Linked DNA regions of Homo sapiens: region 1 is linked to region 2. A link means that fine-mapping ties the variant in region 2 to the expression of a gene that starts in the linked region. Tissue or cell type: spleen. Region 2 holds a variant in brackets; the other region holds the start of a gene. All regions are shown on one strand. Distances are from middle to middle.

Region 1 (2,827 bases), 28 kb before region 2:
GTGCATGTGGCAGCTGGCTAGCCAGTTTGGGCAATTCTAAGTCTTTCATCTGACATTGCTTCCCTCAGGAAAAGGGCTGGACAAGGCTCATACCTCATCACAGGGGAATTGGACATCCGGAATGTCTGTCACATCAAAAATTGCATCCTAAGTGGGCAGATGGCCCACACACAACTGACAATCATAGTTCACAACTTTGGGTGACTAAGGAAGGAGGGTAGCCTCTCTATGAGGTCAGCCCTCCAGGATGCCATAAAAACTGGCTGCTGGTGTCAGGATGCTTTGATTATTAACACTGAGAGGAAGAATACCTCCTGGCTCTTGGGCTTGACATGTGGCTCACTGTAATCCGGGGGACAGGGCAATGCCCCCTTAGTCCTGGCACCCCAGGAACTAAACTGCTCTCACTGTGGCCTCTGGGGCCTCAACATCTGCCTCCCCTTTCCTTTTCCTCCATCATGGCCTCCATGACAGCCTATGACAAAACACACATTGGCCAGCCTTGGCAAGGTGACAGGCGGGTATGGTAATAGCAATCTCAGGAGGGCTCTTCTGTTGCTGTGTAGAAAATGAACCAAGTAGCATAGAATCGTGACCAGCTTTCCACACCTGGCTGGAGCACTCCTGGGGCCTTCAGTAGGGACAGTTACTATCTGTAGCAGAGAAGAAAAGAGCAACAATTCCATTAAACAAGGAAGTACTCAAAGGCAAATTCCTGATAGTTGGACCTAAGGAAACGGCCTTCCTGTAAAAATGGATCCTTCTCCAATCAAGTATTCATTATGCACCCTCTTTAGGCAAGGAGGGGGTATGATTCTTCAACTGCTTGCTGGAGGTTAGATTCTCTGCATAGGAATTTAAATTAGATGGGCCCTTAGCTGATCCTTTCACCATGCTTGTCCATGGGCGGCTCCCCGTCCCCCAGGTTCCCCACGGATGGGGTGTCATTAGGGACCCGCCATAGAGGACTCCGTCCCAGGCGGGCCCCCAGGACAAAACTATGGGCCACTTTGAGGGGCACAGAGACAGACGCTCACCGGTTGTGATGCGCAGGTAACAGAGAGCTCAATTCATCATGACAACCAGTCAGACAGGGGCTGTGAGCAGCCTTTGGACAGAACTTTCGCATAGCCTGGAGGCGTAAGACGAGGAAAGCAATTTAACACCTCAAGGCAGCGAGTCCAGGGCAGAGCCAGGACCAGAACTCAGGACTCCTGTCTCCCAGTCGGGATTCTCTTTCAGTCTTACAACTCTCGGCCTTGTCTCGCCCCATAGTGATAATTTCCACCGGATCACATTCTCCCTCCCTCCTCAGGCCGGCTGCTAGCTCCGCACAGGCACCAACCACTCCCCTTGGCAAGTGTTAACGCGTTCTCACCGTTAAAAGAGCTTTCCAAACTTGGGGGTCCCGCCGCCTCGGCTAGGCCTCATCTGCTCATGCGCACAGCCGCTTCCGTGCCGGCTCCCCTGGCCCCGAGAACTACATTTCCCAGTAGGCAATGGAAACCCAAAAGAAGTACGGAGAGCCGGGAGGGTCAATCATCACCTGAGAGTTGGCTCTTCGCTGGCTGGCTGGTTAATCAGTGCTCAAAGCTGCCTCCGCCTCCTGACTGGAGAGCGAACTAGCCCGGGCGGAGCCACAGTCCTAGAGGCTGAGCGCAGTCGGAGCTGTCCCATTTACCCGACCCGACGCCGGCGTGATGTGGCTTCCGCTGGTGCTGCTCCTGGCTGTGCTGCTGCTGGCCGTCCTCTGCAAAGTTTACTTGGGACTATTCTCTGGCAGCTCCCCGAATCCTTTCTCCGAAGATGTCAAACGGCCCCCAGCGCCCCTGGTAACTGACAAGGAGGCCAGGAAGAAGGTTCTCAAACAAGGTAGCAGGAGGGACCCTGGGGTCCGGGGCTGCACTCGAGGCTTTCTCACAGATTTGGGTTCTCATTTTGCCAAGGCAGCCGCTACCAGACGTGGGCCTTAGTTTCCCCATATGTAAAGTACTAGGAGGGCTTCCTTGCACGTGGAGGAGCCCCGCTTTAGTGTGCAACACTGTCGATAGCCTTTGCCCTAGTAGGCCCCGGGAATAGTAGTCCCAAGGGTGTGGTCATTGTCCTTGGTTTGCAAGGTGTTGGCACCCGCCCTGCCACTTGTAATCCCCGTGGCTCGTGGAACTGATAATCCCCGTGACTCATTCCTCCACTTGGTTCCAGGACCTTAACTTTTTCACCTACCCTCCCATGCGAGCTCAGGGGTGTGGGGGAGCAGCACAGAAATGCGTAGGAAATTGCGTTTTGCCCGTCCGGTGATTTAACAGGCTTTGCATGGTCCCAAATCGTAAGGATTGAACCCTAGTTCTGAAACATTGGCAGAGGTTCAACAAGGCGCCTCAGGCTCAGAGCCTGCTCTCCACTCTCATCTTTAAAACATATTTTGTGGTTGCTTCTAGAGTTTAAAGAGTTCTGCTGCTTTAAAAAATAATGGATCACCTGTTTGATCTACGGAGTCCCTCTCACTTGTAAATTTTAGAATTCTCCGTGTCATATCTTGCTACACAATCGGAGACAGTACTGTTCTAAGTGGAAGGACTAATCATCTGGACTTCTGAGAACTGAGTTTTAGCTTGGACTCTGTCACTAATTTGCTGCATAACCATTAGCACCTACCTGGGCTGGTCTAAAAATGAGATGACTAGCTTAACTGCTTTTCAAACCGGATTGTGATCTATTAGTGGGCTATGAAATCAATTTAGTGAGTTGCAACTGGCATTATTTATTTATTTATTGAAACAGAGTCTCGCTCTATTGTCCATGCTAGAGTGCAGTGGCGCGATCTCCG
Region 2 (2,846 bases):
CCCTAAATCCCGCCCTTCGTCTTGGCGGCAGCGGGAGACTGAGAGACGCGCGCAGCAGGGGCGGGACTGGAGAGGGGCCCCGCGCGCGGATCTCGCGAGAGCATTAGAGGGCGGAAGCGCTATCCGAGCAGGATGCGGTTCGTGGTTGCCTTGGTCCTCCTGAACGTCGCAGCGGCGGGTAAGACCCTCCATCCCGCATCCCACTCTTGCCCCCAGATCCCCCATTCTCACCTGGGCAGGTCACCTCTAGGCTCGCTTCTTCCCTACCCGACCCACCTCTCCGCTCGCCATCGTCTCCCGCCCCACCCCCCAATCCCCATTCCCCCGCTGCTCCCGATCTCTTCCAGTTCTGAGGAGTTCCTTCTTCCCGCCTGCCCTTCTCCGGTGCTAACTCGTTTTTCTATTTCAGGAGCCGTGCCGCTCTTGGCCACCGAAAGCGTCAAGCAAGAAGAAGCTGGAGTACGGCCTTCTGCAGGAAACGTCTCCACCCACCCCAGCTTGAGCCAACGGCCTGGAGGCTCTACCAAGTCGCATCCGGAGCCGCAGACTCCAAAAGACAGCCCTAGCAAGTCGAGTGCGGAGGCGCAGACCCCAGAAGACACCCCCAACAAGTCGGGTGCGGAGGCAAAGACCCAAAAAGACAGCTCCAACAAGTCGGGTGCGGAGGCAAAGACCCAAAAAGGCAGCACTAGCAAGTCGGGTTCGGAGGCGCAGACCACAAAAGACAGCACTAGTAAGTCGCATCCGGAGCTGCAGACTCCAAAAGACAGCACTGGCAAATCGGGTGCGGAGGCGCAGACCCCAGAAGACAGCCCCAACAGGTCGGGTGCGGAGGCAAAGACCCAAAAAGACAGCCCTAGCAAGTCAGGTTCGGAGGCGCAGACCACAAAAGATGTCCCTAATAAGTCGGGTGCGGACGGCCAGACCCCAAAAGACGGCTCCAGCAAGTCGGGTGCGGAGGATCAGACCCCAAAAGACGTCCCTAACAAGTCGGGTGCGGAGAAGCAGACTCCAAAAGACGGCTCTAACAAGTCCGGTGCAGAGGAGCAGGGCCCAATAGACGGGCCCAGCAAGTCGGGTGCGGAGGAGCAGACCTCAAAAGACAGCCCTAACAAGGTGGTTCCAGAGCAGCCTTCC[C/T]GGAAAGACCATTCCAAGCCCATCTCCAACCCTTCTGATAACAAGGAGCTCCCCAAGGCTGACACAAACCAGCTTGCTGACAAAGGGAAGCTTTCTCCTCATGCTTTCAAAACCGAATCTGGGGAGGAAACTGACCTCATTTCTCCCCCGCAGGAGGAAGTTAAGTCTTCAGAGCCTACTGAGGATGTGGAGCCCAAAGAGGCTGAAGATGATGATACAGGACCCGAGGAGGGCTCACCGCCCAAAGAAGAGAAAGAAAAGATGTCCGGTTCTGCCTCCAGTGAGAACCGTGAAGGGACACTTTCGGATTCCACGGGTAGCGAGAAGGATGACCTTTATCCGAACGGTTCTGGAAATGGCAGCGCGGAGAGCAGCCACTTCTTTGCATATCTGGTGACTGCAGCCATTCTTGTGGCTGTCCTCTATATCGCTCATCACAACAAGCGGAAGGTAAGTCGACAGCGGCCTTCCGGAGGGGAGTGGGGTTTCCAGCACCCTGGAAGCTTGGGTGTGGGTGGGTATCCCGTCACTAGATGCCCGTGAGCACTGGGGACTTTAAAACAAACTTCAGTTTTTTCCTCAGGCCCTATTAGGCCTCTTTACTCTTGTTTTGTTAATCGTGTTTTCATCCTGTCACCTGTTTACTCTGAGTGTCCTCTGCTACTGCATTAGGAGCCAAGTTAGGACATTATTAGGATCTGACCTGACTTGGAATCTCCTCCCATAACTTTGCACTTAGGTCCTTCACAGCCTCAGAGGACCTGAGTACTTGACAGTTAAAGCACGTACCTTCCATCCTATTTCCCTTCTTGAGACGATATGTCATTTCTAGCTTCCTTTCCCAACATTCTCTCTTCCATCAGCAGTGGCACAAAGAATGGTTTCAATTACTGCGTCTTCGATACCAGGACCAAAGAGCCCAGGGACTTCTGCAATTAATAATAATTAGAAGAAAGCCCAGAAATTGCACAGACACGTACACCTGTTACTTTTTCATCAGGGTTTGGTCTGTTTATTAGCAACCACTCTAATGACAAAATGATTGCATTTCATATTGAGCCCCCAACATTTAGAAGCTAGTTTCTGTAACCTGCTTAAAATTGGAGAGTCCAATTCTGGCCATAAGGCCTATGGCTATAAAGAATAAAGGGGAAGACCTTTAGTAAAAATGTGCATTCCTGGCCCGGTGCAGTGGCTCCTGCCTCTAATCCCAGCACTTTGGGAGGCCGAGGCAGGAGGATCGCTTGAGCCCAGGAGTCCGAGACCAGCCTGGCCAACATAGCAAGACCTCGTCTCTACATATAATAAAAAAATTAGCCAGATGTGGTGGTGGACGTGTGTGGTCCCAGCTACTCAGGAGGCTGAAGTGGGAGGATGGCTTGACTGTGGGAGGTCGAGGCTTCAGTGAGCCATGATCACGCCATTGCACTCCAGCCCGGGTGACAGAGTGAGACCTTGCCTCTAAGAAAAAAAAAAAGTGTATTTCTTATTCTATGTCCAAGTGTCCATTATGCAGGGTAACCTTAGTCATGAAATGAGATTGATAAAGAATGTAGTTGATGTAGCATCGTGGGGTGAAAAAGTACATTTGTAGATAGGAAATTCTGATTATGACTTTTTTTAAAGGAATGTCCTATATCCTAGATATCTCTAGGAAGGAGTTGATAGATCTTTGACTGTGTACCTTTGAATAAATCAAACAGACTTCC

Evidence for each region. PIP is the estimated chance that this variant, and not a neighbour inherited with it, causes the effect.
Region 1: it holds the start of RETSAT, and the variant in region 2 is fine-mapped to the expression of RETSAT in spleen (GTEx, PIP 0.98).

The regions. Positions count from the first base shown.
Region 1 is chr2:85,353,381-85,356,207 of GRCh38, reverse strand. RETSAT (retinol saturase) reads left to right here and starts at 1,680. Exons shown (of 11, transcript NM_017750.4): 1 at 1,680-1,872. The coding sequence starts at 1,701. ELMOD3 (ELMO domain containing 3) reads right to left here and starts at 1,439. Exons shown (of 14, transcript NM_001135022.2): 1 at 1,379-1,439; 2 at 1,038-1,132; 3 at 610-653. RefSeq lists enhancers at 983-1,042, 677-1,176, 1,213-1,612, 1,177-1,678.
Region 2 is chr2:85,325,249-85,328,094 of GRCh38, reverse strand. It overlaps TGOLN2 (trans-golgi network protein 2), which reads left to right and starts at 106. Exons shown (of 4, transcript NM_006464.4): 1 at 106-178; 2 at 410-1,587. The coding sequence starts at 133. RefSeq lists enhancers at 1-53, 914-1,093, 1,334-1,503. The variant C/T (reference allele first, on the strand shown) is at 1,138.